Linked DNA regions of Homo sapiens. The protein of the gene in region 2 interacts with the protein of the main gene of each other region in a pairwise test. Each region holds a gene or a part of one and is shown on either strand. Other genes may lie near its edges. The genes, in order: MAOB, FGF14 and H4C7.

Region 1 (3,756 bases), on a different chromosome or scaffold from region 2:
CTACCTTTTCCAGATGAGTCTAACATGAGTAATGTGATTGAACCTGAAGGTGTGGAGTATGAATCAGAAAGGGACAAATCATGAAGGGAAAATAGAAAAATCTGAATCCATTGGGCATACTTTAGTGAGAAAATGACTTCGGGGGCCTGAAAAGAGAAACTTCAGCTTCTGTAAGATGGGGTGCTATGCAAGGCAGCATCAAGAGGCACTTAGTAATATTTTCTAAAACACCTAAGTAGGTATGCTTTTAAGTCCAACTTCCTCTAGGAGAGAAGATGTCAAAAATACTGAAAGAAAACTGAATTTATACACAGCCTTGGCCAACCTCAGCATGTTGTGATTACGCATCTATGTACCTGCAACACCAGGCACAGGGCCTGGCATGGGCGAGCTCACCAGAGCCTGCTAGACAGATGTGGTAGCCTGAGATCCCACCCAAAGGGGAGAAAGGCTGGAGCAGAGGCAGGAGGACTGGACCATGGTCAGCACCAAACATCCAATGCCTTGGTTTTTTCTCCAGCCACAGGAGAGTCAGAACAACTCTGTCCTGCCCTCCTGGCAGGGAGCAAGGCCAACCTCTACTTCCCAAAGGCCACTTGAGAACTCCTTAAGGCAAGTCTTAGACAATGCATCCACGGGTCTGGAGGTGTCCTAATTACTGCTCAAGTACTAGGCAGCGTTAGGAGGTGGGCCAAAGCATGCCCAGGGGGCCATTAAACAGGCTGTGCTGAGAGCATCATTGATTCCCATTGACCCTATCCCATAGGATCTGCCTGATCCTCCACAGAGGGTAAGTTCCACCACTACCCCCATCCCTTCTTCTGGCTTCTATTTTTCGGTGCCCTTGGTATGTACACAGCCCCGTGTGGCTGAGGGGGTAGTGTCTGTCCCCATCCTTGCCAAATATGGGCTAGGCCAGAGAGCAAAGCTGCAGCTTGGCCACCCTGCGCTAGGAGTGGGGTGGGGTGGAGTGGGGGTGCGAGAGGCATAAGAGGAAAACAGGCATTTGCCAAAAAGACACTGCAGCCTCAAGTTAGATCCGTGACAATCACAGAACCTCAAAGAATCAGGAGGGCCTGGAAAGTCTTTGGCAATCGATTGGCCAGGCTCCAACCTCTTCTGTTCAAGGTCGTTTTCCTGACGCCAGGACAACAATACGATGTGGTGCATGCTTGCTCTAAGCGAGGGTGCGGAGTGTCCAGGTCAAGTTGGAGCAAATGACTGACCTTTGTGCCACCTCCCCACCCCTTTTCCCTGGCTTCGAAAATTCCAGCAAGCGAAGGCCTAGCAGCCTTCTGGGGGAGAAGTTCAAAGTCTGGCCCCAGAGCTGCAACAGGCTTCCAGCCTCTGGCCTCTGCGTCCGGGAACGCACCCAAAATTGCCCCCAAAGGAGGGTTCAGTGCACGGCGCTCTGGACCCACTAGAGCCCTGCCCGTGCGTGGACAGTCTGGGGACTCCAGGGTCAGCCCCTGCCCCACGGCCGCCCCCCGCGTCTCCCCCAGGCAGCCACCTGTCCGAGCGCGTGAAGAGGAAGGAGGGCGCACAGCCGCGACTAACCTGAGATGCCGCCCCCCACCACGACCACGTCGCATTTGTTGCTCATGGCGCTCGCCCCGTTCCAGGCCTCCCTGGTGCCCGCTGCTCCGTTTTCTGGGCCTCGATCCCAGTCCTGCCTGCCAGCCAGCCCGCCCGCCTGCCCGCCGGCCTGCTGCGCGCTGCCCCCGTGCACCAGCGCCTCGGCGAGCCGCTATATTACCAGCCCCGGGAGCCCGGACGCGCAGCCCCGCCCGCCCGCCTACGCGCAGGCAGGCCGGGTGCAGCGCAGGGCCACCGCCCCCGCCCGCAGCTCTGCAGCCCAGGCCCGGGGAGGGCGGGTGCCTGGGCGGAGAGGTCACCTAGGACTTCAAAGAGTCCCGCCCCAGAATCCCCACTCCTCAGCCTTCTGCACGGTATTTTCCCATCAGCCTCCCTAGTGCACTATCAGGCTTGGCGGCTGGGAGGACGGCAAATTGGGGTGTCTTCCTTCAGGGCCCCAATTACTCCTTGGGTGTAGGGCAAATAATAAGAAACTTCCATTGAGTGATTTCAAGGTACCAGGCACTGTGCTCAGTACTTTATGCATGATTCCTGTTCAAGCTTACAACAATCCATTTTGCAGATGAGGAAAACAAAACATGGTGAGTGACAACATAAGATAAAAAGTCAGAAAGAAAAAAAAAGAAAAGAAAAGAAAAGAAAAGCTAGGAAGATTCCAAGACCCACTTTGATTCACCACACAGTACTACCATTTCTTGGCATTCCCAGCCCACCTCACCCTCCTTCCAAATACCCACTTCTTTCCCCACTCCCCCTACGTGATTAAGTCAGGAAGGCTCCTCCCTAGCATCACAAATGCCGCACCTTAAATACACTCTTAAGCAATGCAGTGTGTCCTTGGTGGAAGCTGTTGAGGCTAGACCCCAGGAGACTAGTGGCAGCAGGGAAGAGGTGGTGGATCGGCATTGTGGGATTCAGAGCCCCCAGAAGCAGCAAGCCAAGTTACCTGTGTGACCCTGGAACGTGGGTATGAGGAGCCTGGTTTAGCCAAACACAGGGATGATTCAACAAGATTATAGGAGTTTAAGCTAAGGTGACTCCAGGGAAAACAGAAGTTTATGTCTTCTGGACAGTAGGAAAGCCACCTCTGAGAACTAAAAGTGGGAAGCAGCAACATAGAATGGCTTTTCAAGAAATAAACAGGTGAAGTGCTTCTGTTCAGGCCTGAGAGGGGCTGGCTTCAGATCTGGGGAATTTGATGAGAACCTGAAGCAAACCTCTGCCTCATCCCACACCATTCCCTGTATCTACCTGCTAGAAAGGTATCCTGAGCTTCTGCTGTCCTCAGACCAGAAGACAATTTGGGCACTTCTGTGACTGAGTCACAGGTGACAGGAAAAGTCTTTGTCCACCTCTGACTTCCATCTGTCCTGCTTTGGTATAAAACAGTCAGACCCTGTGCCTGAACCCCGATCCCTACCTCATGTCCCCACTGCAGAGAATGAAGCTACCTCACCCTGCAGACAGTTTGTGCTGACCTCCTCCTTGCCATCCCCTATCTGGTCCACTTCTGTTCACAGGTCCCTGAAGCTGTGGGCTTCTTGGCTGTGGATACTCTTGTCTCCCCACCTAGCCTGCAAGTGAATTACGTGCCAGGTGAGGTAGGATGAATGGAGAGGATCTGCTACGGTTTGAATGTGTCCCCCAAAGTTCACGTGTTGGAAATTCAATCCTCAATGCAACAATGTTGGGGCATGTTTAGGTTCCAAGGGCTCCATCCTCATGAATGGATTAATGCCACTATAAAAAGGGCCTGAGACAGCAAATTTGACCTCTTGCTCCTTCTAACCCTCATTGCCCTTCTGCCATGGGATGACATATTGGGAAGGCCTTTGCCAGATGCCAACATCTCATCTTGGAATTTGCAGACTCTAGAACCATGATACAATAAATTTCTCTTCAATGTAAATTACCCCCCTTAGGTATTCTGTACTAGCAGCACAAAATGGACTAACACGAGATCCTTGTGGGATCTTCTTGGAATCTCTTTTGCTTAGTTCCAACAGTGCAAGTCAGCCAGGAGCCTGGGGATCTAAGACTTTGAATAAAAGGCAGACTGATAAACCCTTCTCTATGTCCAACTGGCAATGAGGGCAGGAGAGGATCCACACGGTTCCATGGTATCTGGAGAAAATTCATTAGCAAACAGCATTTTCCCCA
Region 2 (3,756 bases):
TGCTTTTCAAGACAAAGATGACAGTTACAGTGATCAATTTGATGAAATCACAATAGCCAAATGACAGGTTTAGCCCCCTCCTGGAGCAACTTATGTAGATCTTTATTTCTTCTTGATGATGCTACCTCAGATTAGAATAAGATCCCATCCAAATAAATGTTCTGGCTTTCTACTGAGTTCTGCATCTCCATATATCCTCCAATTAGTTTTCTCACTAATAAATGAGAGTCCACTGAGTCAATGTCCAGGCCATGCGCCCGAAAAAAAAGATTGATAAAACAGTACATGTTCATGCATTTATTGTGAGTAAAACAAAATGGAATGCTATAAATCTGGCTTCTCCCCAAGAGACTAATAAATATATTGGTTGAAACTATACTTTCTCAAACAAAAGGATTAGACTTTGGCATTTCACTTGTCTTTTTACTGAGACAGGGCAGGGCACCTAAGCATATTGCTTACCAGTTAAAAACCTATCTCAAAATCAGCTATGAGTGACATGCTGAGAGCTGACTTAGTGGGTCACTTAGTGGAAGTCAGGGGAATCTGGCTCTGCCTCCTGGGCTTCGGGTGTCTCTGCCCAGAACCTGGCTCACTGATGCTCATCCTGTTGCTACAAACACCAGAAACGTAGGTCCACAGGATTCTCTTCTGATCGTCACTGCCATAATGTCCAAAACATGAATGGTGCTTGCAACACCATCAGCAACTTAGGGATGTATTGTCTCCATTATGAATTCACTGTGTTGAATATGGAAGAGAAGAAGATGCTTGATGTAGAGGAAGTAATTTATTCTCGGTGGATACCTTAAGGATTCTGACACTATATCTTTTCAGATGAAATGTTCACATCATAGGACTCCAAAGAAGTCAATTCCACAGCACCTTTCTGTGAGCTGTGCCCGTGACTTCACAGATAGGTGATTCTTTCTGTAGAACTATTGCCTTCAGTTGCTTGTGATAGTGGAGACTGGTATATTTTCAGCCTTCTTATTTGTGGCTAAATAATTAATGCACACACAAATGCACATGTTACATTCAAAGATGTTATTGTCTAATACATTTTCTCAAAACTTTTTGAGAACTTAATCTGTTCCTCCAATATTGAAGTCTCAAATAATCCCAGCATTTCCTATAGAACCGATAGAACCAATGGAAGTTGAGGTTAGTTGCTATTTGATGTCATAAGTGATATACTTTCAACACGTAAATGGGAAGCAATGGAGCAGATAAACATCACCTGTGGAGGCAGACAGTAGGATTCAACCCTGACCCCACTAGCTGTGTGTTCTTGGGGAAATTACTCAATCTCTCTGGGCTTCAGTTTCCTCATCTCTAAAATGAGGACAAAAATCATAGGGCAATAAGGTAGTTGGGATGATTGAGTGAATAAATACGTATTACACATTTAGAAGAGAACTTGGTATACAGTGAGCACTCAATAATTATTCTTTAAAAGTTTCTCATTATTTGTAGTAAAAAATATATCCTGATCAGTTATTTCAATTCTGTGAAAATCTCACCAAAAGTCAGCTACATAATTAGTCAATGAAAACCATTTTACACAAAATATTGGGTTCAGCATGAAATATACCAAGATAAATAATAGTCATTCATTTCACTGAAAAATGACAGAACAATATAATATTTGTTATGAGTGACTTACCTATAAAATACTAGAGTGATTATAGGGAGAATAAATGGTATTGTGAAAGGCAAGAGGTGGGAAATGGCCTGGTACATTTGGAGAACTGTAAATAGTTCATCACTGAGATACACGCTTTGTGGGACAGAAGTGGAGAATGTTGTAGATGGGAAGATAGGTTTGAGAAACATAATAAAGGGTCTTGAAAACTCTAATAAACAAATTAGATGTCTTATAAGTGAGAGGAAGACATGTTGAATTCCTGAATATGCAAGGGAATAATAATAGGGCCTGATTCGTATGTTATAAATACAAATCTGTTGTCAGTGTGGAGGATGGTTTCGAAAAGTTAAGAACATGTCGTACTGATGTTTTCAACCCTAATCTCTCACAAAATGAACCTGAAAGTTGTTTGTAGCACATGAGTATATGTGTGTTCACGTTAATAGTTAGTATTAATATTACAAATAGAGAACCAGAACACACAAAGTAAGGGGAGAAATAATATCAGGATTATGACACACTGACTTCTGAACTTTCTGGTAGCCAGGACAAAAAGAGAAAGACTATAATGTTACAAAAATTATTCAAGAAAGAAAATATTTTCCTTTTTGAAAATGAAAAGTTTCTTGGCATGAATTTTTAAAAGGTATTTCCTTATAAGGGACCTAAAAAACTGACATTGACCAACATAAACAAAAATGCTCTTGAGAGTAATTGCACAGTCATACTTTGTGCTTCAATCCTGCAGTATGCTTTAGGAAAACAGATTGCATTGAAAATGTCCAATAGGTAGAACTACTTAAAGTCCAGTAGGTGGAAATAATTGTAATTGATGAGATCTCCAGGGATAATGTGCACAGCACGGGCCACAAACTCAAATGCCTCTAATGACCAGGTAGATACAGGAGTGAGGAAAGCTGGCATGATCATGGCACCGTAATGAGGATAAATGGCCTCTGACTCAGGCTCTGTGGTGAGGAGATGAAGACAGTGGTAGAAGCAATGATTTTTTTAAAAAAGCAGCCGTCCCTCACATGGTTCTCCTGTGAAAATAAAAACCTTAGATCTTTAGAAGATCTGATTTTTCAAAGGAAGTAAGAAATGTAAGTTTCTACAGATAATCTCCTTTTAACATTGGCAACTATTTCTTAGTTTTTGTTTTTCAACCTTGAGTGGGTCAAGGGGCCACAGGGAAGCCTGTGAGCCTTCAGTATGAGACCTCCAATGTACAGCAGCAAGAACCAAAGAAAGAGGAGCCCTACTTTGCTTCTCAAGGCAGTCCTAGTCTAATTGATAGTTGCTATACAGTTGGATAATACAATTATTGTGCCAGTGAAACACTCTCTAAAACTGGCAGTGATAATATGAAAATGCTTATTTAAATTTAGGCTTAAATATAAACTCTTTGAATCTGCCAAAACGAGATCGATAAGGAGTTTGATGTATCTTTTTCTCACCTTGCCTCCTTGACTATGTTTAGAACCATCACCCCCACCACAACAAAATCAACAACAGATGAGTTCCAGCAGAAGCTTGAATATTAATTTGCACCACTGCCAAACTAAATCATCAAGTCATAGGATAGAAAAATGCAATAATTAAACAGAAATGTTATATCTTTTTTATGTTGTGGTTGTTTTTGAAATGAAAGCACCATCTGTGGTGTACTTATTATCTTAACAGTAGCAGCAGAATTCCTCTTCTGAGGGAAATGCCTTTGTTTAGGAAAATACCGTGATGGGCCATTTGCTTGTACAAAGAGAGACTTCTGGTTGGAAGGAGCTCTCCTTCCATAACTCATCAGGAATGAATAACTCAGATAATCTGGCAAAACCATAACCTCAGAATTGAAAGTGACCTTGAGAATCTAATCCAGTGGTCCAGCAAACTGACTCTCAGGCCAAACACAATTTTCACCTGTTTTTGTAAATAAGGTTTCATTGGAAAACAGGCACTTTCCTTTGTTTATATATTGTCTGTGTCTGCATTTACACTACAAATTTCAGAGCTGCGTGGTCGAGAAAGATCTTTATGGCTCACAAAACCTAAAATGTTTACTATATGGTCCTTTGCCAAAAGTTTGCCAATCCTGATCTAAGGTAAAATTT
Region 3 (2,972 bases), on a different chromosome or scaffold from region 2:
TGTTTAATTGGCTCTTTGACCCCTGTACTTTCATAAACAGTAAATTGAGACACGAATTATTGCAGTTACACCTTATCAAGGTGTTTCTATATTTACGATGGATCACAAGCAAAGGCACGAAACAGGTAAACTTCTTTTAGTGCTGCTAAATTAGATCATTGAACTAGCAAGGGGGCCAGTCCCTCCACTGCAGACACATTTGTCAGAACGGCACCTGGCAAGTTTGTGCTAATTATTGTGTATTCTCTGGTTATTGAAATTGCTTATTAAGCAGAATATAAAAGTCGGGTTATCTTGGCACTAAAACTACAATTTTAATTACGGAGGGTAATCCTAACAGTAAGGAGAAAAACACACTACCATAACCACATTTTGAGAGCTTTTAAGTGACAATGTAGCCGTTGATGTCCTCAGCCAGCCCACCAGATTTCTAATCTCTGAACACACGATTAACTTACCACCTGTATTCCATGTTGTATGTCAGCCTTGGCGTAAATTTATACTTTACAGCATTATACACCTAACAGCTTTTGGGCACCTACAGCAATAAAACACACAATATTGCTGAGTGCGTTAGTTAAGTTTCCACAATGTCAAACGTGAGCCCTTCGGAAGAAAACGTACGCGGCCCTGAAAAGGGCCATTAACGATATTGCAAGGAAAGGCCTGGCCTCACTTAACCGCCAAAGCCTTACAGGGTTCTTCCCTGGCGTTTGAGCACGTAGACCACGGCCATGGCGGTGACCGTCTTGCGCTTGGCGTGCTCCGTGTTGGTCACGGCGTACCAGATCACATTTTCCAGGAACACCTTGAACACCCGGCGGGTCTCCTCATAAATGAGGCCCAAGATGCGCTTGACACCGCCATGCCGGGCCAAGCGCCGGATAGTGCACTTGGTAATGCCCTGAATATTATCGCTCAGTACCTTGCGATGGCACTTGGCACCGCCTTTCCCAAGGCCTTTTCCGGCCTTGCCCCGAACAGACATGATAAACAAGTCAGAACTATCTCTAAACAAAACGATTACTCGCTTTCCGCAGCCTTTTATATAACGGTAGAGTAGACCTTTTTGAAAACTGAAAGACCAGGAAAGGCGGGAAAACGTATTCAGTCCCCGCTCATCTACTTCTAGTAATAACAAGACATAAGAAATTCTCTTGTAGTAGGGAGATTTGCTGGCATTTAGAGAATAAGGATCTCTAAACGAAAGTGTCAAACATGTACCTAGAGGAAAGTATCTCGATTTTTGATGTCTGTATGTGTTTAAAGATTTACTCCTGGCCGGGCGCGGTGGCTCACGCCTGTAATCCCAGCACTTTTGGAGGCCGAGGCGGGCGGATCACGAGCTCAGGAGATCGAGACCATCCTGGCTAACACGGTGAAACCCTGTCTCTAATAAAAATACAAAAAATTAGCAGGGCGAGGTGGCGGGCGCCTGTAGTCCCAGCTATGCAGGAGGCTGAGGCAGAAGAATGGCATGAACCCCGTGGGGTGGAGCCTGCAGTGAGCCGAGATCACGTCACTGCACTCTAGCCTGGGCAAGGGCGAAGCCCGTCTCAAAAAAGAAAAAAAAAAGATTTACTCCTTCCCTGTATATTAGAGCATTTACCATGCTGAAGTTGAAACAAGCCCAAATTCCAAGACATAAAAGAATTCCTAATCATATTGCCAAGCCGCCCAGCTAAAGAGAAGTAGCCTGGTTTTTGGTTTCGAATCTGTGAGTGACTGCTCTCTCACCGATATTAGACATGTTAATCTGAGTTTCAATGGCCCTATCTGTAAAAAGGGTAAATACTTGTTAATAATTGAGTTACTTTAAGCAAAACACTGGCATATAGTTAGTAAATGATTTTTTTTTAAAATACGGAGTTTCGCTCTTGTTGCCCAGGCTGGAGTGCAATGGCGCAATCTCTGCCCACTGCAACCTCCACCTTCTGGGTTCAAGCTATTCTCCTACCTCGGCCTCCCAAGTAGCTGGAATTACAGGTATGTGCCACCACTCCCGGCTCATTTTTGTATTTTAGTAGAGACCAGATTTCACGTTGGCCAGGCTGGTCTCCAACTCCTGCCCTCAGGTGATCCGCCCGCCTTGGCCTCCCAAAGTGCTGGGATTACAGGCGTGAGCCACCTCACCGGCCAGTTGGTAAACGAATTCTTATTGCCACAGCCTTTTTTTACAGACAAAATAATAATGCAGAGGTAAAGCACACCGAAGGATTTTAAAACATTGCCTTTGCAACACCAATACATTCAGTGTGCTTTCACTTATATTAAGCACTATACAATTAAGCAATGAAGAATTGCCCAGAAAAAAGATAATGTAAATTGCCAGAGGCTCCATGCCCTGTTCTCATGTGGAGGACAGAAGGTACAGGGGGTGACTGTCTTCTGGGGTTGATACAACAGGAAACTCAGGGAAAGCTGTCATAAATGTTAATAGGAGAAAAGGGGAATTTGCTCACAAGCCAAAATAAAGACATAAGCACCACTAAATTTTTACATTACAAAATACTTGCTGAGCTAGTTAAACGAGAGCATTTAAGTGGAAATAAATGATGTCTCTAAAATAGAATGTTCAAAATAACAATGGATTTTTTATTGTGCAGTTACGATGCACCAAACAAACAGTCCTAAAGATCATGGGTTTTTGAAGCAGGGTCAGCAATATCTAAAAAATCATGTAACTGCATAAATGAATTATGGCCTAATGAGCAGGTCACCACAACAAAAAGCCAAGAGTGCAAACAACTATTTGTGGGGAAAACAAACAAACAAACTTGATAAACCATGGAATTCCAAGCAATAAAAGCAGCAATCCCATCACAGCCTATTTCTACATTATTTTGAAATAATTAGATTTTTTTTTTTTTTTTTTTTTTTTTTTTTTGAGGCGGGGTCTCACTCTGTAGCCCAGGCTGGAGTGCAGTGGCACGATCCCGGCTCACTGCAACCTCCACCTCCCAGGTTCAAGT

What was found.
Region 1: the proteins of FGF14 (region 2) and MAOB interact in binary tests that used the Homo sapiens proteins (3 or more experiments, as listed by UniProt).
Region 3: the proteins of FGF14 (region 2) and H4C7 interact in binary tests that used the Homo sapiens proteins (3 or more experiments, as listed by UniProt).

What each region holds. Positions count from the first base shown.
Region 1 is NC_000023.11:43,880,697-43,884,452, forward strand, and holds the start of MAOB (amine oxidase [flavin-containing] B), read right to left. Parts: upstream 1,755-3,756; 5' UTR 1,604-1,754; coding exon 1,558-1,603; intron 1-1,557.
Region 2 is NC_000013.11:101,728,234-101,731,989, forward strand, and holds part of FGF14 (fibroblast growth factor 14), read right to left. Parts: intron 1-3,756. UniProt on the Homo sapiens protein: Probably involved in nervous system development and function.
Region 3 is NC_000006.12:26,245,990-26,248,961, forward strand, and holds H4C7 (histone H4-like protein type G), read right to left. Parts: upstream 1,008-2,972; 5' UTR 989-1,007; coding exon 692-988; 3' UTR 622-691; downstream 1-621. UniProt on the Homo sapiens protein: Core component of nucleosome. Nucleosomes wrap and compact DNA into chromatin, limiting DNA accessibility to the cellular machineries which require DNA as a template.